7 separate regions of the Homo sapiens genome follow, and regions 1, 3, 4, 5, 6 and 7 are each linked to region 2. Evidence: fine-mapped expression QTL. A gene starts in region 2. Each other region holds a variant in brackets. All regions are shown on one strand. Distances are between the middles of the regions.

What was found.
Region 1: its variant is fine-mapped to the expression of MBD6 in whole blood (TOPMed, PIP above 0.99).
Region 3: its variant is fine-mapped to the expression of MBD6 in whole blood (TOPMed, PIP 0.97).
Region 4: its variant is fine-mapped to the expression of MBD6 in whole blood (INTERVAL, PIP 0.98).
Region 5: its variant is fine-mapped to the expression of MBD6 in whole blood (TOPMed, PIP above 0.99).
Region 6: its variant is fine-mapped to the expression of MBD6 in whole blood (INTERVAL, PIP 0.98).
Region 7: its variant is fine-mapped to the expression of MBD6 in cerebellar hemisphere (GTEx, PIP 0.99).

Annotation. Positions count from the first base shown.
Region 1 is chr12:57,471,696-57,475,822 of GRCh38, reverse strand. It overlaps GLI1 (GLI family zinc finger 1), which reads right to left. Exons shown (of 12, transcript NM_005269.3): 12 at 3,555-4,127. The coding sequence ends at 3,762. It overlaps ARHGAP9 (Rho GTPase activating protein 9), which reads left to right. Exons shown (of 18, transcript NM_032496.4): 11 at 208-340; 12 at 425-532; 13 at 850-948; 14 at 1,120-1,197; 15 at 1,347-1,400; 16 at 1,647-1,781; 17 at 2,115-2,220; 18 at 3,135-3,554. The coding sequence ends at 3,306. Among named protein-coding and RNA genes, the nearest start is that of ARHGAP9, 6.1 kb to the left of the region's middle. The variant T/C (reference allele first, on the strand shown) is at 2,086.
Region 2 is chr12:57,520,548-57,524,634 of GRCh38, reverse strand. MBD6 (methyl-CpG binding domain protein 6) reads right to left here and starts at 1,811. Exons shown (of 13, transcript NM_052897.4): 1 at 1,624-1,811; 2 at 543-606; 3 at 219-355. The coding sequence starts at 331. RefSeq lists silencers at 1,580-1,979, 3,694-4,087 and enhancers at 2,240-2,379, 1,443-2,402, 2,500-2,569, 2,660-2,769, 2,403-3,363 and 2 more.
Region 3 is chr12:57,541,185-57,545,311 of GRCh38, reverse strand. All of the region lies in intron 2 of DCTN2 (dynactin subunit 2), which reads left to right. Among named protein-coding and RNA genes, the nearest start is that of DCTN2, 3.9 kb to the left of the region's middle. The variant G/A (reference allele first, on the strand shown) is at 2,025.
Region 4 is chr12:57,204,484-57,208,610 of GRCh38, reverse strand. LRP1 (LDL receptor related protein 1) reads right to left here. Exons shown (of 89, transcript NM_002332.3): 71 at 4,082-4,127; 72 at 3,862-3,984; 73 at 3,362-3,502; 74 at 3,126-3,260; 75 at 2,934-3,053; 76 at 1,870-2,138; 77 at 395-573. Among named protein-coding and RNA genes, the nearest start is that of NXPH4, 10 kb to the left of the region's middle. The variant C/T (reference allele first, on the strand shown) is at 1,818.
Region 5 is chr12:57,574,450-57,578,576 of GRCh38, reverse strand. It overlaps KIF5A (kinesin family member 5A), which reads right to left. Exons shown (of 29, transcript NM_004984.4): 16 at 3,305-3,493; 17 at 2,820-2,937; 18 at 2,426-2,490; 19 at 2,199-2,308; 20 at 1,715-1,816; 21 at 804-864; 22 at 497-568; 23 at 235-339. Among named protein-coding and RNA genes, the nearest start is that of PIP4K2C, 15 kb to the left of the region's middle. The variant C/T (reference allele first, on the strand shown) is at 2,405.
Region 6 is chr12:57,167,439-57,171,565 of GRCh38, reverse strand. LRP1 (LDL receptor related protein 1) reads right to left here. Exons shown (of 89, transcript NM_002332.3): 19 at 4,042-4,122; 20 at 2,259-2,426. Among named protein-coding and RNA genes, the nearest start is that of LRP1-AS, 22 kb to the right of the region's middle. The variant A/G (reference allele first, on the strand shown) is at 1,900.
Region 7 is chr12:56,562,752-56,566,878 of GRCh38, reverse strand. The region is part of intron 2 of RBMS2 (RNA binding motif single stranded interacting protein 2); the gene reads right to left. Among named protein-coding and RNA genes, the nearest start is that of RBMS2, 43 kb to the right of the region's middle. RefSeq lists a silencer at 827-876 and enhancers at 460-997, 998-1,536. The variant C/T (reference allele first, on the strand shown) is at 2,025.

The sequences.
Region 1 (4,127 bases), 49 kb after region 2:
TGGAGGCCCGGAGGGAGGCTCCGACCGGCCGGGACCAAGGGAGTGGGGTAGGAACGATAGGAGTCAGGAGCAGTTGGGGGCAGGGTGGGCTCAGTGGAGAGCCCTTGCCTGGGCCGGGATGTGGGACCCCGGCAGTGGGTCAGAGTCCAGCTAGGGATACAGATTTCTCTCCTCTCTCACCTTCGACACGGCCCGCCCCGGGTCTAGGATCGGGAGAACCCCCTGGAGCTGCGTCTGTCGGGCTCTGGACCCGCGGAGCTGAGCGCCGGGGAGGACGAAGAAGAGGAGTCGGAGCTGGTGTCCAAGCCGCTGCTGCGCCTCAGCAGCCGCCGGAGCTCCAGTGAGGCGCGGGCTGGGGAGGGAGAGTCCGGGAGCGCAGCGAGGCTCCCGGGCGCTCACGCCCCGCTCTACCTGCCTCCTGCAGTTCGGGGGCCCGAAGGCACCGAGCAGAACCGCGTGCGCAACAAACTAAAGCGGCTCATCGCGAAGAGACCGCCCTTACAAAGCCTGCAGGAGCGGGGTCTGCTCCGAGGTGAGGGGGCTGGGCCAGGTTCATGGATAAGAAAACTCCAGCGAGGCTCAGAGTAGAGCTTCCCAGAACTAGACCACAACCTTCTGTGACTGCTGCTTTCCCACTACCCCAGATTGTTTAGGGGAGAAGCTGGGGTGACCTGTACCCCTTTGCCAGATTGTTTGAAGCAGGGGAAGGGAGGTGGAGTGTATTTCCTTGCCCAGGCCTGGCACAGGCAGCCAGGAGGACCAGCCTCACTTAAGGATAAAGACCTATGCTGAGAAGAGCTCCTGTGAGTGACGCTGGCACTGGCTTCCCGCCTCACTCTACTTCCCCAGACCAGGTGTTCGGCTGCCAGTTGGAATCACTCTGCCAGCGGGAAGGAGACACGGTGCCCAGCTTTTTGCGGCTCTGCATTGCTGCTGTGGATAAAAGAGGTCATTTTCTCAGAGACCCCAGAATCCTCTTCCAACAGGCTAAGGCCTAGAATTTTCTGCCTCCCCCATTCTACCTAGTCTTCCTACTGCCCTTTTTCTCTCCACCCTTATATCCCTCACCACACACACTTTCAAGCAGCAGTCCTTATCTACTCCTTCCTCATCTCCCAGGTCTAGATGTGGATGGCATTTATCGGGTGAGCGGGAACTTGGCAGTGGTCCAGAAGCTTCGCTTTCTGGTGGACAGAGGTGAGAAGGCTTGTGGGCCAGTGGTTGTACTAAGAATGTCTTGCCTGAGAACCATGGGCGGTCCTACATGAGGAAGCTGGCAGAATAGAGAGGCCGTCAGGCTGGAAGTGTATGTCTTAGCTCCTGATCTCTCCTCATTCATGTTGCAGAGCGTGCGGTCACCTCCGATGGGAGGTATGTGTTCCCAGAACAGCCAGGACAAGGTACTTACATGGAAGACCCTTCAGATCCCTAAAACTTCCACATATCCTCTTTGCTTCCCGTGGAAACCCCCATGTACTATTCCTGGGAGGGTTGTCCTCATCCCCACCTTAGCTACCTTGCCCCACTGCAGACCCTCTAGGCATTCCTATAGTCTGCTTTGACTGGATTTCTCCAGAACTTCTAATCTCTCAGTCTCTAAATCTTTCTGGCCCTTCATGAGCCCCTATACCTCCTTCTCCCTCCAGAAGGTCGGTTAGATTTGGACAGTACTGAGTGGGATGACATTCATGTGGTCACCGGAGCCCTGAAGCTTTTTCTCCGGGAGCTGCCCCAGCCTCTGGTGCCACCACTGCTGCTGCCCCATTTCCGTGCTGCCCTTGGTAAGGGTTGGAGCTTTGGAAAGAACCCTTGATGTGGGGGACACGGGTGGTAAATAATAGAATAGAGGTTCCCTTATACTCTTCTTTCCCATTCTGACTTTAGAGATGGAAAATAATGTTCAACTCAGGTGCCTACTCCAGTTGCTTTTTTGTGAATGTTTAGAGGGCTGAATTGAAAAGAATTATGAGGCTATAGTTGGGCTATGTGAAAAAGAAAGCTGTGCTAGATTAATGATGTCTTCCATGCCTGTGGGAAAGAGCAGTGCATTTACCCATCCTGTCCTAGCACCTTCCCTAACCTTAC[T/C]ACCATGCCTTTCCCATCACTCTCTCTAGCACTCTCCGAATCAGAGCAGTGCCTCTCTCAGATACAAGAATTAATAGGCTCAATGCCAAAGCCCAACCATGACACTCTACGGTACCTCCTGGAGCATTTATGCAGGTCAGGAAGACAGAACCTCTTTGTTCATGCTGGGGAAAGGTGGAGTGGGGAATGCCACAGGGACTCTGTGCAGGTGGAGTGAAGGTAGGGAAGCACCTAAGTTTAATGGGCAGGTGAGGAAGCAGGCAACCTCTGTGCAGGAGCATATTACCAGAGTCAAAACCTTTATTTTTTTATTTTATTTATTTTTGAGACAGAGTCTCGCTCTGTCACCCAGACTGGAGTGCAGTGGCGCAATTTCAGCTCACTGCAACCTCTGCCTCCCGGGTTCAAGTAATTCTCCTGCCTCAGCCTCCTGAGTAACTGGGATTACAGGTGCCCGCCACCACGCCTGGCTAATTTTTGTATTTTTAGTAGAGACGGGGTTTCACCATGTTGGCCAGGCTGGTCTCGAACTCCTGACCTCAGGTGATTTACCCACCTCAGCCTCCCAAAGTGCTGGGATTACACCGTGCCCGTCAAAGACTTTAGGTCAAAACCTAAAGGTCAGCATCAAGTGGGGAAATGGAACCAAGATGCTGTGAAAGGAATAAGGGAAATCTTACTTCTCCCTTCCCTCTGCCTCTTTGTCTCCCATTGGGACATTGCTGATGGCTTCTTTGGTTGAACTGGGCCTGGGCAGTGACTTCTGAGAGAGGATGGCCACTTGAATTAAAGACTCCCAAACTGTGAGCAGGCAGAACTCTTGGGGCAGCCCCTGAAGTCGGAAGAGGCAGTTATATCTTCAGGTTGTATCCTGAAGGTTTCTCCACTGGTCCATCTCCATTCTCCTTGTATCTCCTTGGTTTTTTTGTTACCATGTGGAGGAATCCCAGAGTGAACTCTTCCCTGCTCAGAACTTTGAAGGGTTAGTTAGATTGCTATGAAGTGGCAAGCTGCTGCCATATATCCCCTTCCTTGGCCTTTGCTTACAGGGTGATAGCACACTCAGATAAGAATCGCATGACACCCCACAACCTGGGAATTGTGTTTGGACCAACCCTGTTTCGGCCAGAGCAGGAGACATCTGACCCAGCAGCCCATGCTCTCTACCCAGGGCAGCTGGTCCAGCTGATGCTCACCAACTTCACCAGCCTCTTCCCCTGATGCAGGGAAGGAAGAAGAGAAAACATATTTCCGGTCATCTCTGGTGGTGAGAGGCTGGTGTTCTGTTTTGAGGATATCCCTTTAAATCTCCCAAATGACTGTCTCTATCTTCATGAGTGTGACTTGAGGTGTTGGGATGGGTGAGGGAGCTTCTCTAAAGAGGAAAGTGAGTGGATTAACCCCTGCTTCTCTTCTTGTTCCCTGTTATCATTCCTCCCCAACATAATAATACATAAAGTGGCATGGTATTTTTTCTGATGCAGTTCCTTTATTATCAGGAAACAGTGTCATTATCAAATTTCTCCTCAAAACGTATACAGACTATACATAGCCCCCAGCCCATACCTCCCATCCCTGGGGCATCTTGTGCATGGGACTGCAGCTCCCCCAATTTTTCTGGAAGGATAGAAACCCCTTAGGAAATGCGATCTGTGATGGATGAGATTCCCTACTCTTTAGGCACTAGAGTTGAGGAATTCTGTTTCCCCAGGTAGGGATCTCAGTAAGACACTCATGTTGCCCACAGCCATGTTGGGGGGCCCAGAGGGAGGTGGGGTATGTCCAGAGCTGCCCCGCTGATCATGGGAAGGAGGAGGACTCAGCCCCTGGGGCTCATCCAGAATAGCCACAAAGTCCAGCTGAGTGTTGTCAAGATCAAGAGAGTCCAGGGGGTTACATACCTGTCCTTCGGGAGGAGGGTACAAGGCAGGACCCCCTCCTAGCCTGCCCACCTCAGGATGACCACAGCTGGGGTTTGTGCCTCCCACTTTGAGAGGCCCATAGCAAGTGGGCAATGGGGGCAGAAGTCGAGGTGGTGCTGC
Region 2 (4,087 bases):
TCCTCCTAGAAGAACAGAGGATAAGGAATGTGGGAAGACACAGAAAAAGGGAGAATGGATTCAAAGGCCCAGAGCTACAGAAAGCAAAAAGGCTGAGGAAGGAAGGGGAAGAGAGGAGAGCAATCGGGTACCAGAGAGCTGAGCTGAGAGAAGAAACGGAAGAAAGAAAACCTGGGCAACTGGAGTGGCAGAGCTTGGGGACCTGTGAAGATCCGTACCTGATGTAGAGCACAGCACCCTCTCGCACACAGCGCTGCCAGCCGATGGGGACAGATGTGGCCACAGGGCCCCCAGCTCTGTCTGCTCCACTGCTCTCATTGCCCCCATTCATTGTGTGTAATCAGCTCCCGCGTGCCTGATAACACAGACATCCATGTAGGCACTAGGAGGATTAAACTGAGCGAAGTACCTGAGAGAGGACTCCAGGAAGGCAAAGGTTGTGGGGAGACCCAAGAAAACTCAGGGGAAGCCCCAGAGGAGCAAGGGGAACCCCTCAGCTGGGAGGGAGACTGAGGAGTCCTCTGCCGTATCACCACAGCTACCTGAACATCTCTGCAAACATTGTGGGGTCCAGTCTAAAGCCGGGGCCACCAGCTTAGCCCACACCTGCAACGCAAGTAGAGAGATGGGACTGTCAGGAGTCTGCCCAACTCTAAAGAGCAGCACAGCCCAGCACCCTCTCAAAAGAAAGATCCTTAACAATGTGAGGCAAGCACCTATAAAGATCTCGGGGATCTGCTGGCTTAGTCTACAACCATCCTTTCCAAGCCCAGTCCCTAGGGACCAGAGGGTCAGAACCTCAGCTCCCTGGGACCAAGAAAGTCTAGCCCAATTCTTAGGCATATGAAGGGCAAGGCCTCCCTCCATTCGGAGTAGAAGACTTCAACCAGGAGTATGGGCACATTCCCATAATGCTAGGCCACTAGGAAGTTTCCCAGAGTGTCTGGCTCCTGTTGTTCTCTACCCAGGAAGATGATATAAAAAGTACAGATTGCCCCACAGGTCACCAGGCAATTGCCCAACTGCCCGCTGGGGTGGTACCAGCAGAACTCCCCCCATGCCTGCTCCATCAGACAATCGCTGATATAGTTCATTCGGGTCTTAAGAGGTGAGGATCACAGCTCAGTCTTCTCCCAGGATCCTGGGAAGCTCCTGATTTTCCCTCAAGCCTACGGCAAAGGGATTCAGAACCTCCTATTCCACTGGCTTCCGATTATCTCCAAGAGAGCCTGTCCTCCGATAGAAGGGGAAGCCCCTCCAACCTGCAGGTATCCTCCCCAGCCTCACCATTGCTCCCACCCCACACTGGCGGCTTCCAAACTTTCCCTCTCACAACAAGGCGCCCTGTCACCCAGACTGCTTCCCTCAGCTTGAGGAGGAGGGGAAGGCGCACGAAGTAGGAAGGAACTTGGGGAGAGGGCGGGCGGAGGGTGGGCGAAGCACTGAGGGGAGGGCGGTGAGGAAGGCAGAAGTCTGGCAGTGAGAGGGAGAAGCGGCGGGGGCAGGTGAGGGCGGGGGAGTGGGGATGGGGCCGGGGAAAGGGGCCGAGAGGACGCGGAGGGGGCAGAGGGTAGGGACGGGAGGGGGAGGGGCAGGGTGGGGGGGGCCGGGCCCCGCACTCACCGCGGCCCATGGTTCGGCCGGCCCCGCCCTGCGCAGTCGCGGCCCAGAGGGTGAGTGGGAGGGGGTGGGAGGAGGGTCGGTGGAGCCCGAGCCTCCGGTACGGCCCCGGCCGGTCCTAGCAGGAAGCGCCGCTGCCGCCGCCGCGGATCACCGAGCGGCCTCCCGCGCATGCGCCATGGGGGCCAGGGGCAGCCCTGGGGATTCCGTTCCCAGAAGGCACTGCGCAGGCTGCTGCCGCTGCCGCCGCCGCCGTCGCTGCCGCAGCCGCCGCCGCAGGAGCCGCCGCCTCCGCCGCTGCCCGGACGGGAGAGGGGCGGGGCCGGGCCCCCGCCCAGCGGACAGCGACGAGCCAACTGGAGGGGCTGCAGTGCGCATGCGGGAGCGCGCCTACCCCTCCCCCACAACCCCCCATTAATCCCCAAGAGAACAAACACCCCACGCGGCCCCCCCGCCCTCCGCGGAAGGATCTGCGCCTCTTCCCAGGCCACTGGTGGCCAATCCCAGCCCTCCTCAGGGAGGGGCCCCTTCCAAAGCCACAGTCTGTTGCGGGAACCAGGAATGCCAGGTCCGGGAGGGGCCAGGCCCCGAAAGATGAAAGTCGCGACTTGCCCTGCCCCGCCCCAAAGGCTTCCCGGGTAGTGTGCTGGGACTTGACCCGCCTCCCCAGGTCAACATGTCACAACACGACCTCAGCCTGTCAAGTCACATGACCTCTGCCTGTCACTGACAACCTGGTCTGTCTTTAGGCCAGGGGAGACCATCTGGTCCACCCTCCACACTACCCCCATTTTCAGAGAGGAAATGGAGGTGTGGAGCAGCGGAGCAGCCTAACCAAAGACCTGTCATTGCCACACCACTCCAGTCACAACCGGCCTTGTGACAGTTTCTACTTAAACTCTGGCTGCCCCCATGAGGGTATGACAGGATATGTAACAGGCCACCACATGGCCTCTGTTTTCAAGGCACAAGAAAAATACTTTGCATTCTGGGTGGTGCGTTTTACTTTTGGTCAAGTTGCCTCCAAGTTCATGGTTCTCATTTTACCTTCACAACTTTTATCTTTAATTTACAAACAAGGACGGTAAGATCCCTTGGCAAGTGATGGGGAGTTGAGTCTAAAATCGCGGCTCCGGTCTCCCCAGTCCAGGGCAGTCCTGCGCTGAAGTGCACTCACACGTCCCGGGATGAGACTCCGCTGTAAATCTCGACCCGAACACCTAGGAGGCAGGCCTGTGCCGCGCTCCTCACACAGGGAGTCACAGGACTTGCTGTCTGGTACAGCAAGAGAGGGTCTTGGAGAAAGCCATAGGAGTACCGTGGGGGAAAATAGGTGGCCAAACAGAATCGGGTCCACTGGGCAAAATACATGACTTCTGGCAGGCTGAGGGCTTACCAACTACAAGGTAAAAGTCAAGGGCGCTGTTCTGAGAGAAGCGGAAAATGACTACCAAGGGATTCCAGTACCTCGGCCCCTTTTGGGAGATTTACGGGGCTAGAACAGGAGACCACCCCCGTTTTTTTGTTTGTTTGTTTTGTTTTTTGTTTTTGGTGAAACGTAGTCTCGCTCTGTCACCCAGGCTGGAGTGCAGTGGCGCGATCTCGGTCACTGCAACATCCGCCTCCAGGGTTCAAGCGATTCTTCTGCCTCTGCCTCCAGAGTAGCTGGGATTACAGGCGCGCATCACCACACCCGGCTAATTTTTGTATTTTTAGTAGAGACGGGGTTTCACCATGTTGGTCAGGCTGATCTCGAACTCCTGACCTCAAGTGATCCGCTCTCCTCAGCCTCCCAAAGTGCTGGGATTACAGGCGTAAGCCACTGAGCCCGGCCAGGAGACCTCTTTAAGAAGACTCGAGATGTCGACAATCCCAGTGGATGGATACCAACTTTAAAAAGAAAAGTTCAAAAGGCCTATGTGCCCATTAGCTGGGAGGGGCCAAGAAATATGGGAGTCCCTTATAGTGGGGGTAAAACGGCGGGTAAAGCTAGGTGGGCGGAACAGCAGCTTCTGGGGGAGACAAGCGGCAAAGAGGCTCACGACCGACTAGGGGCGACCAAGGCTGATAGCCGTTGGGGCCGTTGGGCGCCGGGAGCTGGCGCCCCGCCCTCTCTCCTCTCCCCCACCCTCCGCACCTCCCACCACCCTCGGTGTCCCCTGCGCGTGCGCGTGCAGACACCGGTTGCCAAACATTGCATCATCCCCGCCCCCCTTTCCTCCCCTCCCCCCCCGCTACACTCCCCTCCGCGCGCGCGCATGACTCACCCACCTCCTCCGTGAAGCCTCGTGACCCAAAGCCACTTCCGGGTCCGACACTACGTCGACCCCCTAGCGAGAGGGAGCGACGGGGGCGGTGCCGCGGGGCTCCTGAGTGGCGGATGCGAGGGACGGGGCGGGGCCAATGCCGGCGTGCCACTTTCTGATTGGTAGGTTTTGGGGTCCCGCCCCTGAGAGGAGGGCAAGGC
Region 3 (4,127 bases), 21 kb before region 2:
TAGAAGGAAAAAAAAATTGAGTGAATGGAAATCAACATAGTAAAAACTCTGTTTAAGTGCCAAGAGGTGTGTTTATAGGATGTGTTTTAGGTTCTATTATTTCTGAAGACAGCTGGGCTGGGATCACATTGATGATGTGAGTTCTCAGTAAAGATGTGTCCAAGAGTCATTGCAATATGCAGGCTCAGTATGCTTGTCTGTAAGTCCTGTGGCTATGTCTGTGGGGCTGGTTAATTCTGGGGAATGCTGACTGCTGGCTTACAATGTGTGGCTTGGCGTACTCACTTATTTCTTATTTGACTCCCCCATGTGGAAGTGGTTCTTACATTGTGGGAAACACCTTCTCTGTCCCTTCTCCCAGTGGTGTGTTCCTTGTGGCTTCTGTATTTGCTGGCATGCCAATCTATCCCCTAAGCTTGAGTATCTTGGAGATAATGCAGATGATGTTGTTGCTCAAGGACCTGGGTGTGCACCTGTCACTCCAAGAGGCATCTTATAGGAAGCTGCCTCTGTCCTCACAGAATAGGAGTGTATACAATCGGTTCTCTGTATTTATGGGTTCCAAACCCATGGATTCAACCAATCACAAATGGAAAATATTTTTTAAAAATAAAAAATAGGCCCAGTGTGGTGATTCATGCCTGTAATCCCAGCACTTTGGGAGGCTGAGGCAGGTGGATCATTTGAGGCCAGGAGTTTGAGACCCCGTCTCTACTAAAAAATATAAAAATTAGCAAGGCGTGGTGGCGAGCGCTTATAGTCCCAGCTACTGTGGAGGCTGAGGCAGGAGAATTGCTTGAACCTGGGAGGTGGAGGTTGCAGTGAGCCGAGATTGCGCCACTGCACCCCAGCCTGGGTGACAGAGCAAGACTCCATCTCAAAAAAAAAAAAACCAGTACAACAATAAAAAAAAAAACAAAATTTAAAAATACAATATAACAACTATTTACATAGCATTTACATTGTACTAGGTATTTTAAGTAATCTAGAGATGATTCAAAGTATACAGGAGGGTGTAGGTAGGTTATATGCAGTTACTATGCCAATTTATATAGAAGATGGGAACATATGCAGATTTTGGTATCAAGGGAGGTCCTGGAACCAGTCTCCCACAGTTGCCAAGAGACAGCTGTATGCTGAGAACTTTACTGCACTACCACAGTTCAGACTGTTCAACTTAGGCCTAGGCTTCTGCCCTTCATGGTGAGATAATGAATAGAACTCAGTCCTTTTGTCGCTGTGATACAAACAGGTAGTTTCACAGTAATCCTCTTTCTAAACAAAAAAATACATATTGTCATTCCCTTTTGAAGATACTGGGATATCTCTTAATAAAAAGGAGATGACACCCATTCCAGGTGTGGAAGAACCTGACTGTGCAGCTCTGATTGGCTGTTTCTCCCCCAGAGCCTGAACAGCCTATTTTAGTAGCATCTAGTGGGGTGGCTGATGAGGAGAGGATACTGTGAGTGTTCATTTCCTGTGGCATGTTGCCCAGGATGCCAGTATAGAAGTGCATATGAGCTGAATGGCAAATACAAGAAGAGCTGAATTGTTTCTGTCACCTAAGGCTCAGCTAAGTGACTCTCTGTCACTAGGGAGGAATGGGGTGGGCAGACCTTCAGCCACTTCAGGGGCCCGAAGAGCCAAGATGTTTCCTGATGTCAGCTAATGTCTCTGGCCCCCGCATGTCCCTATGGGGCTTGCAGCTTTTGGGAAGTCAGCTGAGTAATGGCTCTGCCACTGCTTTTAATACTGACGTAAATATGCAATTTGAGGAGCAGTGAATTGTATGCTTAGATAATCTAGAAATGTCATGTCCGTGAGGCCTGGGATCTCACCAGCAGCCTGTCTGTTTCCTGCCTACCTGCCCAAGACCTAGTACAAGTGACAGTGCACATGACCTGTCTTGTGGCTGAACCATGAGATTTTCAGTCACCTTCTTTTTTTTTCTTTTTTTTTTGAGACGGAGTCTCACTCTGTCGCCCAGGCTGGAGTGCAGTGGCGTGATCTTGGCTCACTGC[G/A]AGCTCCACCTCCCGGGTTCACGCCATTCTCCTGCCTTAGCCTCCCGAGTAGCTGAGACTGTAGGCGCCCACCACCACACCCGGCTAATTTTCTTGTATTTTTAGTAGAGACGGGGTTTCATGTGTTAGCCAGGATGGTCTCGATCTCCTGACCTCGTGATCCGCCTGTCTTGGCCTCCCAAAGTGCTGGGATTACAGACGTGAGCCACCATGCCCAGCCTCAGTCACCTTCTTAACCCCTGACAACAGCATTCTCCGCCTTAATCTTCAGTTTATTTTCAACTTTAATTTTATCAGTTTTTAAAGTAGGTAATGTATGCACAGGGAACAGAGGATTCAAGGGTAAGTAGTGAAAAATCTGCCTCCCACCTCTGCCTACCACCACTCAGTTCTCTTCCCTAGAGACAACCAATATGGATAGACTCTTGTGGAACCTTTCAGGGGGTCTCCAGATTTCTTTTTGGTTTTTGAGACAGAGTCTCACTCTTTCCCCCAGGCTGGAGTGCAGTGGCACAATCTTGTCTCACTGCAACCTTTGCCTCCCCGGTTCAAGCGATTCTCCTGCCTCAGCCTCCCAAGTAGCTGGAATTACAGGCATGTGCCACCACACCTGGCTAATTTTCTGTATTTTTAGTAGAGATGGGGTTTCACCATGTTGGCCAGGTTGGTCTCGAACTCCTGGCCTCAAGTGATCCATCCATCTTGGCCTCCCAAAGTGCTGGGATTACAGGCGTGAGCTACCATGCCAGCCGGGTCTCCAGATTTCTGTCTAAAGGAATAGTCAAGTTGTGTTGACCCTCACTGCTCCATAACTTTCTTCCTGTGATTCCTCCACTGTGGAAGAAATTGGGCTACTAAAGGAAAAATGTCCTCAAACATCCCTTAAAGATTTAAATTGCTAATTTAACTTAAACATAAACATTTTCCGATTCCCATAGTGGGGAGGATGGGGGAGGAAAGCATAAAAGATTTAAATTTTGCTACAGATGATCGTGAATTTTTTTTTTTTTCAAGATGGAGTTTCACTCTTTTTGCCCAGGCTGGAGTGCAATGGCGTGATCTCAGCTCACTGTAACCTCCACCTCCCGAGTTCAAGAGATTCTCCTGCCTCAGCCTCCTGAGTAGCTGGAATTACAGGTGTCCATCACCACACCCGGCTAATTTTTTGTATTTCTAGTAGAGACAGGGTTTCACCATGTTGGCTAGGCTGGTCTCAAACCCCTGACCTCAGGTGATCCACTCACCTAGGCCTCCCAGAGTGCTGGGATTACAAGCATGAGCCACTGTGCCTGGCCAATCCTGATTTTTCTACTATCCCTTTAAAACAATTTTAGCAGGAAGTAAAATCTTCTAAAACAGGAATGGACCAGGAAAGTGCACGGGCTGTAGCCCTTTCCTCCTCAATCTGGGAAGATCTCTTTGCACTTCAGACACTCCCAGGTTAATTGGGGCAATAGGCTTGCTTGGAGATTTTTCTTAAAATGTTTGGAAAACTAATTCCCAAATAGAATTCCACCCACACACACACCCCGACCCTAACCCCTGGGCCCACAGCCTGCCTTGGGTCAGTGAGGCTTTCTGCTCATGGCTTTTGAACTGCTGGAATAAGGGAAGTAAATTAAGAAAAACCTCATTAGAAACAATTTAGCTTCTCTCTTTATGGCATAACTACCCGCAGTAAAAGGGGAAAAAATGACCTAGCCATAGTTTGATGGGGCCCTGGCAGAGGCTTCATTTCTCCAAAAGGTAGATATTACTGGACACTCCTGAGATGAGAAACAGTACTTCCTTACAGTTTAGAAGATCCTGGAGTATGCTTGATTGTGTTCATTGACTGTTGGCGCACTTGAACTTACCTGAGTTTTTCCTAATGCTTCCCCCATCCTCCCTCCTCACCACCTTGCCTGGACACTAGTTTGCACAAGTAAGACCATTCAATGCTTCTTCTCTGCATGTTTTTTTCATCTGCCATCTCGCATGCAATGCTCTGCCACTGTGCTATTGTTGTAGCTAATCGTTTTAAATTCCAGTGAGTCCCTGGCTGGGTCACTGAGGGGCCTGCTGGCCTTATGTTTAAAGATCATTAATCAAGGGTTAGAAACA
Region 4 (4,127 bases), 320 kb after region 2:
GGACTGGGAGGAGGGCATTCTGTCCTTCTACAGAGAAGCAGGCGGGAGTCTGCTTCTGAGCAGGTTGAGGGGCTTTTCCTCTAAAACCACAGTGTGCTCATTCAGAGCCACCGACGCTGGCAGAGCTGTTCCCCAGGGCAGAGTGTGGCTGTGCATGACAGCCGGCCAAGCAGAGGTCAGATCCCTGCCCAAGCAGGCCCAGCTGGGGGCCCTGGGCAGAGGCAGCATGGGGAGGGCCAGGCAGGGGTGGCCGAGAAGACCCAAGGGACTGAAAAGGACTCTGTCCTCAGGCTGGCCTGGGAGGGAAGGGCACGCATGTGGGTGCAGCCCCCAACCCTGTCCCGGGGGCTTCCTACCACCAGCCCAGAGGCCTCCCCCCAGGGCCCTTGCCCACCCCCTCAGTGGGTCCACCACAATGGCGTGGGGCTCGTCAATCATGCCCGAGATGAGCGTCTTGCGGTTCTCGCCCTTCATCTGCGCCACCTCAATCACATCTCGGCCCGAGTCGGTCCAGTACACGTTTCCGGCCACCCAGTCGATGGCGATGCCTCTGGGCATCTTCAGCCCTGAAATCTGAATGGAAGCCACAGGTTCAGGGGCCACTGCTTTGTCTTCCTGCCATTATCCCCCCGCCACCACTCTGCCAGCCTGCTGGAACGTCACCCCAGGCTCACAGCCAGGACCCTGGCTTTAAAGAGATTCAACCGGCATGGAGCTTATGCGCCAGACTCGCAGCTCTCACACGTGGCTGGTGAGCCCTCCCTGAAGCCTGTGCAATGGCGATGATCACCTAATTTTATTGATAAACAAAGTGAAACCCAAAGAGGTTAAATGAGGTAGCTAAGACGTACACAGTGGGAAGTGGCAAGGATGGGGGATTGGTGCCGGAGGGCTGTCTGCCTGCCCATCATGCCCTGTGCCCTGGGCTGCCTGCAGCACAGCCAGCTGCTGACCATTCCCACTGCTCTGTCTTCCCGCTGGCCATGCCTCAGAACACAATCCTAAGACTGCCCCCTGCCCCACTCTCAACCTTTGCCCCTCGCACTGCCCTTTTGTTTTCTTTTTCTTTTTTTTTTTTTTGAGACGGAGTCTCGCTCTATCATCCAGGCTGGAGTGCAGTGCTATTCTGCAACCTTGGTGCCACTGCAACCGAGTGGCACTCGGCTCACTGCAACTTCCACCTTCTGGGTTCAAAGGATTCTCCTGCTTCAGCCTCCTGAGTAGCTGGGATTACAGGCGCCCGCCACCACGCCTGGCTAATCTTTGTATTTTTATTTTATTTTATTTTATTTATTTATTTATTTATTTATTTAGAGACCGAGTCTCTATTTATTTATTTATTTATTTATTTATTTATTTATTTATTTAGAGACCGAGTCTCACTCTCTCGCCCAGGCTGGAGTGCAGTGGCGCGATCTCGGCTCACTGCAAGCTCCGCCTCCCGGGTTCATGCCATTCTCCTGCCCCAGCTTCCCAAGTAGCTGGGACTACAGGCGCCCGCCACCATGCCCGGCTAATTTTTTTGTATTTTTTAATAGAGACGGGGTTTCACTGTGTTAGCCAGGTTGGTCTGGATCTCCTGACCTCGTGATCCACCCACCTCTGCCTCCCAAAGTGCTGGGATTACAGGCATGAGCCACCGCGCTCAGCCAAATTTTTGTATTTTTAGTAGAGACAGGGTTTCACCATGTTGCCACGCTGGTCTCAAACTCCTGATCTCAGGTGATCTGCCCGCCTTGGCCTCCCAAAGTGCTGGGATTATAGGCGTGAGCCACTGCGCCTAGCCAGCACTGCCCTTTTCAAATCCTGCTCTGAAC[C/T]GCCTGCTCTATGGAGCTCTTCCACTCCATCCACGCCAGGTTGGGCACTCACGTTGAGGTGGGTGACACCCCGGTCAATCTGTCGCCGGTGGCGGTTGGAAGTGGTAGGAGGCGCAGCAGGTGGCAGGCTGCGGTAGGAGATGGTGCCCGTGTGCCAGTTGGTCCAATAGACACGGCCAGCCTTGACATGGACATCCATAGCATCAATGCGGACACTCTCGTCACCCTGGAATGCCTGCTCGTAAGCCGAATGGGGGTGGCCGGGGAACAGGCTGCGGATCTCATTGTCATCAGCGATGTACAGGACCTGGTACTCAGAGCCTGGAGAAGCAAGAGGCCAGGGCTGGGGCTGTGGGATGCAGGTGTGCACCCCACCCAGCTCAGCTCCTTTCACATGAACACTGTCCCATCTCCTGGTAGGACCATCTGCTCCGGCCAGAAGCTGCTGCTTACCCTCCCTGCTCAGGGTTGCAGGCTCCAACCTCAGCCTCTGGACCTCCTCCTCTCCTCCCCTGAGCTGATCCACTGTGACCCGCTCCTTTCAGTCAGAAAGCTGTCCCTGCCCCTCCAGACCCAGAGACTTCCACCTCCTCACGGCTGCTGGATGGCATCACCACGCTCTCTGCTACAAACTGCCTGGCACATGCTCGGGGGTGCATAGGCACATGGGGTGTGTGTGCTTGGCATGGAGCACGAGGGTGTGCATGGGAGTGCATGGTGGGGGTGTGTGTGCCAGGGGTGTGTGTGAATGTCTGTGTACAGGCATGTGGAAGGCAAGGTGGGCATCAAAGCATGTGGGGAATGTGCAGGTGAGGCCCCCATGACTGTGAGTGTGCAATGCGTGTCTGAGTGTACTCTCGTCCTGGCAGTGGTGGGTGAGGAGGTGTGTGTGCAATTCAGAGCACTGCCACACCCCAGACTCCTTCAGTCAGCCAGCCCCAGGACCTGCCCCCACTGCTGGGCCAGCACTGTGCTCAGGCAGCTGCAACTATGAGTCTGGGGCTTCTTGTCTGGGCAAGATGTCCGCAGGAAGACATTCCATTCCAAGTCGGCCCCGTTTGATATCCTGGTCGCCCTGCCCCACCCAGCCTTTCTGCCCTCTGGTGGCTCCGGCACCTTCGGCCTTGCAGGTGTTGTGCGTCTTCATGAAGTTCCGAGCGCAGCTGCAGAGGTGGCCGCCCTTGGTGTTGTTGCAGAGCTGGGAGCAGGTGCCGAAGCGCAGGCACTCGTTGATGTCTAAGGGTTACAGGGAGGGTCATGAGAGTCCACAGTTGGGGTGTCCACCCCTGCTCTGCCCCGCTTTCCTACCTTGGCATCCGGGCTGGCCGGGCACGGTGTGGAAGCCCGAGCGGCAGGCACAGTAGGCCGCTTTCTCGGTGCGCACGCAGCGTGCCTCGTCCCCACAGATGCTGGCATTGGTGGCGCAGCTGGTCAGCTTGGGGTCTGTGGGGGACAGAGAGTGGATGCCCTCCCTTGAGCCACCCCAGGCCAGGGCTTGGCTCTCCCCACTCCCCACCAGCGTCCGGTCCGCTGCCGGGCCTCACCGATGCTGCAGTCCTCCTCGTCAGAGCCGTCCCCGCAGTCATCGAACATGTTGCAGCGCAGGGAGGAGGAGAGGCAGCGCTGGTTCCGGCACAGAAACTCCTTCTTGTCTTTGCAGTGGGTGGTGTGGGCTGTGGGGGGCTCTGAGGAGGGCAGAGGCTTTAGGCCCTGGGTATTCTCCCCTGCCTCCTCCTCCCACGGCAACCCCATAGATAACAGTGGCTCCCAATTCCTAAGTGACAAGGCTTGCAGGGGGAGCAGGTCAAACATTTGGGTTCCCAGCCCCACCTCCAAGACCTAAGGCATCAGGCAGCCCCCAGAGCCTTCCCCAGGGGCTTCTCTTTCCTAACGAAAAGCCCCCAGGCTCCTAGCAATGGATCCTCCCCTTCCTGGGCGAGTCCTCCTGGTTAACCCTAACCCCAGTGCAGCTCCCACGAGGACCAGACTCACCCCACTGTGCACTACCCGTCCCCTGCAGGCCTCTCGTCGGCCCCCTGCTCACCACAGTCCTCTTCATCAGTCCCATCCCCACAGTTGTCCGTGCCATCGCATTGGCGCCCGATCCACAGACAGACGCGGTCATTCTTGCAACGGAAGGGCCGGTTGGGAGGGCACACGAACCGGGCTGCAGCAGCCAGGGGGACACAGAGCCAGAATTAGTCTTGGGAGTGGGGGTGGTTGCTGGCCACTGGGAAGCCTGGGAGCCCCGCCCCAAATCTCACCACACTCCTCGGGGTTCTCATCTGAGTTGTCCCCACAGTCATCCTC
Region 5 (4,127 bases), 54 kb before region 2:
CCACTTTGAGCAGAGGTGGGTTAGAAACTTTGAGAAGGGAATACAGGCATGAAACAAAGAACAAGGTACAAGTGGACCAAATATGGTATAAAGAAGGGATTAGTAGGGAAAGTAAAAGCGAACAGTAAGGAAAACATGCAACTAGATTTTCCTGAATCCAAGGGGCCTCTGAGGATTTGGTATGCTAGCTACCCGGCCTCAAAAATTCTCTTCACTCCTTCAGCAGACTCTTACCTGTTTGTGAACCTTTGTAAGCTGTTCCAGGTTGTTCTCAAGAAAGGAAATCTTCTGCTTTTGGGAGTGAATCCCCCCACTGTCTTCGGGCTCCATTTCTGCACTCTGAGAACAGATAGAAGGAAAGACGTGGCTGTCCTGAGGCCAAACAGGTCCCACCAAGACCAGGCCAAGCCAGCCCCATAGGGGCAACAGGGGCAGGAGAAACCTAAGGATAGGAGGAGGATGTGGGGGCTGACAAAACCCCAAGGACAGCACTCACTTTCTTGACTCGAGTCGTGACGTCTTGAACGAACAGCTTGCGAAGGTTGTGGAGGGTCTGGAGTTCCCGGGCCTGGAAAGAATGATGAAAAATTGGGAATAGCCAGATACCAGGTCTGTCCTATTCCTCCAGAATTATAGGTACCTCCAGTCTCTATAATCAAGTGAGTCACTTATCCTTTAGGAAAAAATGTGTCTTGATTACGCTACAGAATGGCTGCAAAAGGGCAGGAGGAATAGGGTTAGGAAGAAATGAAGCCTCCCCACTCCCCAGTCCTGTGAATTTGGCACAGAAGGGAACCACTCACAACTGTCTCCTCCAGACCCTTGAGGTCCTGCTTGGACTGCTCATGTCGCTCGTACAGAAATCTGTAGCAAGAGAAATAAGGGAAATGGAAAGATCCCTCAGGACTCTCCTTCCTCCTGCCTCTTCCTCTATTACTTTTATCTCCATTTAAGTATTACTATTATTGTTATTTTGTGAAACAGGGTCTCATTCTGTTACCTAGGCTAGATAGAGTACAGTGGCACAATCAGGGCTCACTGCAGCCTCAACCTCCTGGGCTCAAGGGATCCTTCCCACCTCAGCCTCCCAAGCATCTGGGACCACAGACGTATGCCACCATGCCCAGCTAATTTTTGTATTTTTAGTAGAGACAGGGTTTTGCCATGTTGCCCAGGCTGGTCTCGAACTACTGAGCTCAAGCAGTCCACCTGCTTTGGCCTCCCAAAGTGCTGAGATTATAGGTGTAAGCCATCGCACCCAGCCTATTATTATTTATTACACAAGTTACTCATGTTTACTGTGCAAAAATTAGAAAAGAATTTTAAAGAGAGACATAAGGTGAGTTTTTATAAAAAGCCTATGATTCTACTATTTACAGATCAAACCAACATTAACCTTCTGGTGTCCACCTTTCTAGACTTTTTTCTATGCCTACATATCCATGTATACATTTTTATGGGATCATACCATGCATATGGTTTTGTAACCTGTTTTTACACTGAATAGAACACGTAAACCTCCTTCCATACTGGTGAATACTCAACGGCAGTCTTTGCTGAGAGTGTCCTTTTGGTCCCGTCCCTACCCCATCATATTTTTCCCATGAGTCACCCTATCATGTCTGCATGTGTGTCCTGCCTCTGCAAGCGTGTCTGAGTTCACAGTTCTGAGCCTACAAGGCTGTAGTTTTACAGGTAAATCCATGCCACTCACGTCAGCTCCTGCAGCTTGGTGCTCTTCTCGTGTTCTTCGCTCTTCAGCTTCTCGTAGTCAGCCTGAAGCTTCTCTAGCTCTAACTGGAGCTTCTGATTTAGGCTACAGAGCATCAGAAGGTAATGGAGATGGGGGAGAAAGATGTTAATGAGGGGGAAGGGAAGGCCAGCTCTTCAAACTTCTTCCTTTTTGAACGAGTGAGTCCAGTTAGAATTGATGTGTCCACCTTCAGATACCAGAGGCAGACTCAGGCCACTGTTTCCATGACAGAGCCAGGAACCCTGACCTCTCTAATCCTGGGACCCTCAAGGATAGGGACTAGTCGTTATTCCATGTGTCTCCTGAGGTGGGGCTACGAAGTTGTGGCATTGTTGAGGGAATGACACATGGATGTTAAAGAATCAGACCCAGAGGGGACATGTGAGTCAATACAGCAAGGTGACAGGACCCGGGAGGGGCTGGAGTCGCCCTTGGGAACCCTTACTCTTTGAGCTCATCAATGGTCTTCTGCTTCTCGTTGATCTCGTCCCGGAGCCGGGCCAGCTGCCGGTGATGGGCCTCCCGGTGACTCTCCATCTGCAGCTCCAGAGCCTTCTGCAAACAACCCCACCCCAAGCTCAAAGGCCAGACTCCCAGCAACAAGCTCTGTGAGGGCCAGCACAGCTTTCACCACACCAGGCCCCAATTGTC[C/T]CTGACACCTTCCTTACTCACCTTCACTTCATCTGCATCCTGAGTGTCAGGCTCCTTGTCCTTCAGGGCCACTTCATGCACAGTTTCTAAGGGAAAGAGGGGAAGACAGCTGACATCAAACCTACCTCTTTCGGAAAGAACTTCACGTTGTGACCAGAACTCCAGGCAGGGCTGGGAATGGACCCACAGGGATGTTCTTCTGTGTTAGGACTGTCCAATTTGATATAGCAGGAACAGAGAACAAGGGTGTATGGTTAATGTAAAATGAGCTACATGCAAAACCTTGGCTAACATATGAGTTGGCATCCATGATTTCAAGCTAATGCTTTGAGTGAGTGATTATTGGGGTGATTTATTTTGATGTTTCTGACTTTTCTGCCCTGGACAGTGGGATGGAGGTATAAGAAGGCCTCACCCTGGGCCTGGAGCTTGGCCAGCTCATCGCTCAAGGAGTCATAGGACTCTTCCAGGTGCCGCTTCTTTAGCTCCACGCTCTGCATGTATTCCGTAAGCGAGCGGATCTTGGCCTCATGCTGGTGGGAGAAAGTTGGTGAGAGGAAGAAGATGGAGCAAAGGACACAAACCCAGGCCACACAGATCTCCAACTCCAGCTCTCCTCCCAGCCCTCCCTCCTGCTACACTTCCCATGAGGGTGCAGGGTTGGGGGCCATTCCTATGGGGCTCTTCCTTTAGCTCCCATGGCTCAGGGGGCAGTACCCGCCCTGAGCCTTTACTTTTTTGGCCCTGATCTGCACCCCTGCCACCCCAGCTTTTCTGTCCTTGATTTCACTTGACCCCAGAACTTTGACATAAAGGTGGGTGTTAGGAGTTTTAGCCATAACCCCAGAGTAGCCTTCTTTCTCCCATGGCATCTGAAGGTTCTCAAACTTAGGCACTCACCTGAGAGATGAGGAGCTGGCAGGATGAGAGCTCCCGCCCGGTCACTTCCATCTTGCGGTGACACTCCACCTGGAGGTTCTCCAGCTGCCGGCACCGCTTGACCACAGACTTGACTTCTGATTTGATTTTGCTGATGTAGAGTCGGGCCACAGTGAACTCCTCCTCGATGGCCCCACTGATCTCCACTGGCTAAGGTGATTAAAGGAGGAAGAGATGCTTCTTGGCTGCTGGGAAGCTTTATCTGTTCCCTCCCACCTTCTACCTACCCATACACACCCACATACGCAGGGACTCAAATGGGATGGGTATTTTCCAAACGACCTTTAGCAGCTCTCTATCAGCGGCATTTCACATTAAATTCCTCCGCCTGCATTTAAAAATCCAATTCTGGCTGGGCGCAGTAGCTCATGCCTTGTAATCTCAGCACTTTGGGAGGTCAAGGTGGGTGGATCACCTGAGGTCAGGAGTTCGAGACCAGCCTGACCAACATGGTGGTGAAACCCTGTCTCTACTAAAAATACAAAATTAGCCAAGCATCATGGCACATGCCTGTAATCCCAGCTACTCAAGAGGCTGAGGCAGGAAATTGCTTGAACCCAGGAGGCGGAGGTTGCAGTGAACCGAGATCACACCACTGGACTCCAGCCTGGGCGACAGAGTGAGACTCCATCTCAAAAAAAAAAAAAAAAAATCCAATTCTGGGCCGGGCTCGGTGGCTCACGCCTGTAATCCCAACACTTTGGGAGGCCGAGGTGGGTGGACTACGAGGTCAGGAGTTCGAGACCAGCCTGGCCAATATGGTGAAACCCTCTCTCTACTAAAA
Region 6 (4,127 bases), 350 kb after region 2:
CTCCCAAATCAAGCCTCTCACGATTTACACCTGCTGTCATCATCTGCCCCCTTTGAGGACAGCCTCATTCCCCACTGTCCCTGCACGAGCCTTTCCCTCGGTCTGAACGGCTCCACCTGGCCCCACTGTCACCCTACGGAAGTGCTCAGTTTCACCCTCTAAGTCTTGACGACAGCATTCTCCGGACCATGCCATCCCCACTGGAAGACCCTCCCTCCTGTCCATTTACCTGCAGTCTAAACACAACTCCTCCTGAATGGTCCCAGACCATCCAGCTCATACCATAGTTAACAACTGCTACCAATAGTGACACCCTGCTCCTCCACGCCAGGCCTCACATACCTCAGCTCATTTCATAAAGGAGGATGCCCAGGCTCAGGGGAAGCAACTTGTCCAAATTTGCCCAGCTTATCTGGGAGCGGCAGGGAGCTCTTCTCACCACACCACACAGCCTCCAGAGGCCCCTTCTCAGAACCCTAAGGGATATCACCTGTGCCCCTCACCCTCCCCTTCACAGAGATAGCCCTGGAGACGCAATTACTATTTCCCAAGCTTCCTGTGGCCTTCTCTGTCCTCCCTCTCAGGGCAGGGCTCAAGGTGGGCACTCAACGCTGTCCAGTCTTCTCCTACTAGGGTGGGAATGTGCCCTAACTCTATAAGGCAGAGGCTGTAATCTAGTGGTCCATGGGTCAGATGAGGCCTGCAGGAAGAGTTTGGTCTGTAGTTTTTTTTAAACTTTTTTTTTCTTTTGAGACAAGGTCTTATTCTGTCACCCAGGCTGGAGTGCAGTGGCGAGCTCACAGCTCACTGCAGCCTCAACCTCCTGGGCTCAACCTCTCACCTCAGCCTTCTGAGTAGCTGGGACTACAGGCATGTGCCTCCATGCCCAGCTAATTTTGTTTATTTTTTGTAGAGAAAGGGGTCTCACTATGTTGCCCAGGCTGGTCTTAAACTCCTGGAAACAAGTGATCCTCCTGCCTTGCCTCCCAAAGTGATAGGATTACAGGTGTGAGTCAACACACCCAGCCTTTTTTTTTTTTCTTTTCTTTTTTCAAGATGGGTTCTCCCTATGTTAACCAGGTTGGTCTTGAACCCCTGGCCTCAAGTGATCCTCCCACTTCACCCTCCCAGAGTGCTGGGATTATAGGCATGAGCCACCATGCCTGGCCTGCACCCAGCCTTTTAAAACTTCTAAAATCAACTGCCAGTTGGTATGGCTTGAATTGTGTTCCCTAAAAAGATATTAGTCCTATCCCATAATACCTGTGAATATGACTTTATTTGGAAATAGTGTCTTTGCAGATGGTCAACTTAAGATGAGGTCATAAGGGTGTATCCTAATCCAATATGACAGGTGTCCTCACAGAAAGGGGAAATGGGGATCTGGTGACAGACATGCCCACAGGGAGGACACCGTGTGAAGATGAAGGCAGAGATCGGGTCAAGCTTCGACAAGCCAAGGAGCTGCAAAGATTGCCAGCAAACCGCGGAGGCTGGGGAGAGGCCTGGGACAGAATCTCCCACACGGCCTCAGAAGGAACCCACCCTGCCAACAGTTGGGTCTGGGACTTCCAGCCTCCAGAACTGTGAGACGAGAGAAACTAATACTGTAGTGTTAAAAATTTGGTAGTTTTCACATAAAAATCTGCACATCTTCCAGAGCTAGGAAGCCAGCATTCCTTGAGAGGGCCCATCCCTCCAGAAAACTAGGTCCCCACCGCCCCCGAGGCTGGGCCCCAGAGGCCAGGGCACTGGGAGCCTTGTGGAGCCAGGCCCTCTCTCCTCTGTCTCTTCAGGCTCATTCATCCCTGCCTGCAGCATCCTTTTCTCAAGCTACTATTTACCAAACACAGGCCGTGTGCTGAGCACTTTTCGTGCGTGATCTCACTAAACTCCCAC[A/G]TCAGCGCTGTGATGTTGGTGCTATTATTACCCCACTTTGCAGACGAAACTCACAGAGGCCCATGGAGATTAAGTAACTTGCTCAAGGCCACCCAGATAATAAGCTGCAGAGCTGGAGCTCAAACCCAAGGCCACCAACTGCAAAGCGCATGATATTAACAGCGTGTGGCAATGATTTTTCGGCAACCTCCCTCTCCCACAGGACCGGGAGCTCCTGAAGGACAAGAGCCATGCCTAGGCTACCTCTGGCTCCCAGATGGTGGCCGACACACCGTGGGTCTGAAAGACAGATGGATAGGCTGGGTGTCTGATGCAGGGGGCTCGATCTCATCCCCACCCCACGGGCCCCTGGTGCCCACCCTGGTTGGTGCAGTTGGCGTGTGTCTCATCACTGTAGTCTCCGCAGTCATTGTCCCCATCGCAGGTCCAGTGCTCGGGGATGCAACGCCCGCTGTTGCACTTGAACTGGGTGCTAGAACAGGAGTGGCTGCAGCCGGCTTCGTCACTGTTGTCCCCACAGTCATTGTCTGGCGGTGGGGGAAGAAGGGGAGAGGCAAAGCGGGAGTTGGTGGAGCAGCCTTCTCTGTGATCCCAGCTTGGGCCCCCTGCCCAGAACCCACCCTCAGCCCACCCTAACCCCCCCACTGGGAAAATAACAAACAGAAAAGACACAGAAACTGCATAGACTGCAGCATGCACCATGGCCCACGTGGTCAGGATGAGGAGGAGGAGAAGGCTCCTGGAGGGCCCCTCACTGAAGCTCAGAAAGGCTGGGTGCAGGGAACATTAAACATTTCATTTCCCCTTTCTGGCAGGTGTGGGAACAGGGGTCTGCTTGCTTTTGGGGGAAAGGCAGGGGTTTCTCTAGTTTTGGAGGGAGAGAGGTAGGTGGGGTGCAGGCGTGGCCGGCTTGAGACAAGCTTTACAGGCCTGCCCTGAGGCTGGCACTGCTGAATACCATGCTCTGGGTGCCTGGCTTACAGGGGCCCTGCCTGTGGCTGGCAAGAGTGGGGGCCACTTCTGGACCAAGCTCGCTGAGGCTGGCTGAAGGAAGCTCCTGCTTTCTCAGCATTGGGTGGGGGCTGCTTGACTTGACCCTCTGTATTTATGGGACATGTGGTGGAGACTGGGGTTTGGGTTATGTTCCTGCCTCTTTTCCAACTGGATTTGCTTCTCTAACTCTCTCCTCCCCTTGCATCTTGGGCTTTTTGTCACCACCTCTCTGTCATCTCCTTTCCTCAGAGGCTCCCTCTGCCGTCTCTGCTTCTTTCCTGACCACTATTTGCTTTCTCCCTCTGTTTTCTGCTCTCCCTCCTCTCTGTTGCTTTTTCTTCATATCCTAGCAGCTCTGGAGTAGGGGCCTGGAGAACCTGCAGGGGGCTGGGGCCAGCTGAGCTCTGGGTGATGGTGCATGTGCTTCTATGCACTGACCGGCAGGCTCAGGACAGGTCTGTTCGTCAGAGCCGTCCCCACAATCCTTCTCTGAAACACAGAAACCGCCGGGGCAACCATTGGCATGCGAGACACAGAAAAAGTGAGGGGCAACGTGGCACTGACCCAACACATCCGCTCACACATCAGCTGGGACAGGAACCACTGGGGCAGCACGTCACAACACAACACAGACAGAACAGAGCCCTGAGACACCACACACGGCAGTCACCTGCCCGCACATTTACACACATACTAGCCCTGGTGGCTCAAGGCTGACATCACCTGGTCCATGGCTATCTGCCAGGTGGGCTTCTGAGCCTGAAGCCCAGAGCCTGAGGGGTGCACCAAGGACTCCAGGAAATGGGGGTTTGCAAGGAGAAAGGAGTCAGGCACCGGTTTCTCCTTGCTCTGCCTCTCTGGCCCATCTCACTCATCTCTCCCTGGCCTCCGAGCCCTACTAGAGGGTGGGCAGCTCAGGCCCTGCCTGGGGTAGGAATGACACTAAAAGGTGATGGTCTCCCCTTGGTCCATCGTGGCTCCCTCCAGGCATTTCTGACTTCTCCTGTTTTCTCCCAGGCAACCCAGCAGGGATTCAGTGTCCTGGAGGGAGGCCCTGCTGGATTCTGAAGCCCTTTGCCTTCCCTGGAGGGCCTGGCTGTAGCCTCTAGCTGTCTTAGGAATCAGCAGGTGAGGAGAGCAAGCTCTTACCATTGTCGCATCTCCAGTTGATGTTGATACATCTGCCATTGTTGCAGGTAAACTGAGTCAGGGGGAAGCAGGTGGGATAGGCTGTG
Region 7 (4,127 bases), 960 kb after region 2:
AATCTTTGACACATATTCATTTTATATTTGCATGACAGTTGTGTTTTCTTTTTGTTTTCTGAAACAGAGTTTCACTCTTGTTGCCCAGGCTGGAGTGCAGTGGCGTGATCTCGGCTCGCTGCAACCTCCGCCTCCCGGGTTCAAGCGATTCTCCTGCCTCAGCCTCTGGAGTAGCTGGGATTACAGGCATGCGCCACCACACCCAGCTAATTTGGTATTTTTTAGTAGAGATGGTGTTTCACCATGTTGGTCAGGCTGGTCTCGAACTCCTGACTTCAAGTGATCCACCTGCCTCAGCCTCCCAAAGTGCTGTGATTACAGGTGTGAGGCACTGTGCCCAGCCTAACAGTTGTGTTTTTCAACTTTTTGAAAATTATACTTTGGTAGCAGAGTCATGTGGAACTTCTAAAACTTGAGTAGTAGTGTATCACAGATCAGGGATTATATTAGAAGCGTTCCACTAGAAAAAAGCCTCTACATTCCACTCCAGGAGGGTGAAAATATTAAAGAGACAGAACAGAAATCACTAACAAAGTCAGAAGTACAAGAGCTAACTGAAAATAGTTGTCAGGGAATGAATTTGAGAATAATACCCCAAACAAGCAATTTTCCCATCTCTCCTTCCATCCCTAAAGAACATATGATGATTGATTTGTTTTCACTCCTTGGCGGCATCTCACTGACTTTTTTAGTAGAACTTCTGTGATCCAAAGGATTAGACAGAATAAGCCAAGCAATGCCCTGAAAGCTGGGAACAGAACACATTAAAAGGAGGGTGAGGATGGATGTGGCTATCCTAGCCCTTCCAGGCTACACACTTGGATTCATTCCCAAATTGAGGCAGGGGAGGGACTCATGAGAAGTCTGACTGTGGGGCAGAGGACACAAGTGCTGCTATCCTTATGAAGGCCCCAGGGTGGAGCTTGCTGTGGTCTAGCAGCTGAGACTTTGAGCTCAGAATTTCCACTGCAGCTGGCAACAGCTGGGTCACTGCTGCTGCTTCCTTGAAGGAGCCCCTCCGAGAAACAGGAGTTCCAGTCCTAGACTCCACGCCTCTCCTTCCCACATGCCAGACTTTAGGATCCAGCAATATTTACTTCCTCTACAACCCAGGGAGAGACAACTGGGACAAAGGCAGGAAGTCCGTCTACGCATGAGAAACATCCTTCCTAGAAAGGCTTAACTCCCTGCTCACAGCGGACAGAGGGCTCCACCCACCTGCTCTGCTCAGCCTCCTAGTCAGGACTCCTCTGGCACCTCTTTCATTCCTGCCTCACTCCTGCCTCTCCACAGTCCCCTTTTGGGCTCCTTACTTCGATCCTACATGCTGCCCTTGACTATACTTATGCTTCAGACACAGCAAAAGATAAGGCAATTGTTCAGAAAGGCAAAATAAAAATCCCTCTGTATCTGTGGGTTTCCCACTTGTGGATTGAACCAGCCATGGATTGAAAATATATAGGAAAAAAAAAAAAGTCTTTCTTCTAAGAGAGGTTCAGGGAAAAAAAACTAAAAAAATAACTGTTGGGTACTATGCTTAGTACCCAGGTGACAAAATAATCTATACACCAAATACCCAAGTCCCGAGTTTACCTATGTAACAAACCTGCACATGTACCCCTTAACCTAAAATAAAAGTTAAAATGTTTTTTAAAAGAAAGGATGGTTGCATCTGTACTGAACATATACAGACTTTTTTCTTGTCATTATTCCCTAAACAATACAGTATAACATTTATTTACATGGCATTTGTATTGTATTGAGGTATCATAAGTAATCTGGAGATAATTTTAAAGTATATAGGAGCATGTGCATAGGTTATATGCAAATACTACACCATTTTATTTTATTTTATTTTTATTATTTTGAGACGAAGTCTTGCTCTGTCACCCAGGCTGTGGTGCAGTGGCGTGATCTCGGCTCACTACAACCTCTGCTTTCTGGTGGCGTGATCTCGGCTCACTGCAACGTCTGCTTTCTGGGTTCAAGAGATTCTTCTGCCTCAGCCTCCTGAGTAGCTGGGA[C/T]TACAGGTGCCCACCACCACACCCAGCTAATTTTTGTAGTTTTAGTACAGACGGGGTTTAACCATGTTGGCCAGGCTGGTCTCCAACTCCTGACCTCAGGTGATCCACCCATCTTGGCCTCCCAAAGTGCTGGAATTACAGGCATGAGCCATCATGCCTGGCCACTATACCATTTTATCTAAGGGACTTGAAGCCAGGCTCAGTAGCTCATGCCTGTAATCCCAGCTTTTGGGGAGGCCGAGGCAGGAGGAATGATTGAGCGCATAAGTTTGAGACCAGCCTGGGCAACATGATGAAATCTCATCTCTACAAAATTTACAAAAAATTAGCCAAGCATGGTGGTGTGTACCTGTAGTCCTAGCTACTCAGGAGGCTGAGGTGGGAGGATTGCTTGAGCCCTGGAGGCTACAGTTAGTTGTGATTACACCACTGCACTCCAGCCTTGGTGACAGAACAAGATCCTGTCTTAAAAAGAAAAAAAAGCGTAGGGACATGAGCTCAGTGAATTTTGGTATCCATGCAGGGGGACAGAGGAGGTCCTGGAACAAATCCCCCCCAGATACTGAGGAACGAATATATGGTAGTCTAATCAAGATTCTTCTCTGAGCGAGGCACGGTGGCTCACACCTGTAATCCCAGCACTTTGGGCGGCCGAAGTGGGCAGATCACCTGGTCAGGAGTTCGAGACCAGCCTGGACAACACAGTAAAACCCCATCTCTAGCAAAAAAAAAAACAAAAATTAGCCCGATGTGGTGGCGTGCGCCTATAATCTCAGCTACTTGGGAGGCTGAGACTCAGTCTTAAAAAAAAAAGATTCTTCTCTGTCTTGTGATGTGAGAGAATTTTTGTAGCACATTATATTTAGTACAAGAAACAAAATTTAGAAATCAAGGACCTATATTAGTATGATACTCTTTCGCTCCCTCAAAAACCAACATTTCTGCTAATTCCCACCTCTCAAAAATTACTAGTCCAAGACAGTCCCCTTAATTCCACTTACATACCTTTCTAGCAAGGTAAGCTGAGATAACGGACCAGTTTTAAAATTTTTTTTAATATATATTTTTACTATATTTTTTATAGAGACAAGGTCTCACTATGTTGCCCAGCCTGGTTTTGAACTCCTGAGCTCAAGCAATCCTTCTGCCTTGGTCTCCCAAGGTGCTAGGATTACAGGTGTGAGCCACCACGCCCGGCCCAAGGACCAGTTTTTTATATACACCAGACTTTATTTTTTATTGCTTATTATTTTTTGAGCTGGACATCTGTGCACTCTTGCCATTTTTCCAACATTCCTAATTGGGCAATTCCATGAATCAAATCTACTAAAAAGAACTCCGAAGGGTCTTCATGGGGTAGATACAGAATAATTGTTCCTATCTCCACCTTCTTTATCTGCTAATTTGAGGTCTCCATTCCCAAGGAATATCTCCAGCAGCAGAAAGTCTCCAAAGTGCATGATTTGATTGGCGAGTCCCACTTTCTTCCATCCCCACTGCCAGCTCTCTCATGCCTTCTAATTAACATCTATAGAGATATTAAACTTCTCTATTCAAGGTGTAAGGACAGCAGTCTTTCCACTAAGACCATCAGGTTGGGGGAGGTGCTGGAAATAAAGTTGGATATTAGGCTTTAAAGGCCAGTCCCACACTGGCTTTCCTTAGAGAAACACATAAAGGCTTTATAATATATATCAGTAGCAGGTAGATTTTTATTTATTTTTATTTTTTTGAGATGGAATCTCACTCTATTGCCCAGGCTGGAGTGCAGTGGCATGATCTCGGCTCACTGCAAGCTCAGCCTCCAGGGTTCACACCATTCTCCTGCCTCAGCCTTCTAAGTAGCTGGGACTACAGGCACCCGCCACCATGCCCGGCTAATTCTTTTGTATTTTTAGTAGAGACGGGGTTTCACCATGTTAGCCAGGATGGTCTCGATCTCCTGACCTCGTGATCCGCCCGCCTAGGCCTCCCAAAGTGCTGGGATTATAGGCATGAGCCACCGCACCCGGCCAGTAGCAGGTAGAATTTTTTAAGAGGCTGCTGAGAAAGTTTGTGTCTATGGAGTAGAAACAAAATGCCATTGCCTTTTAGGATAAGTGA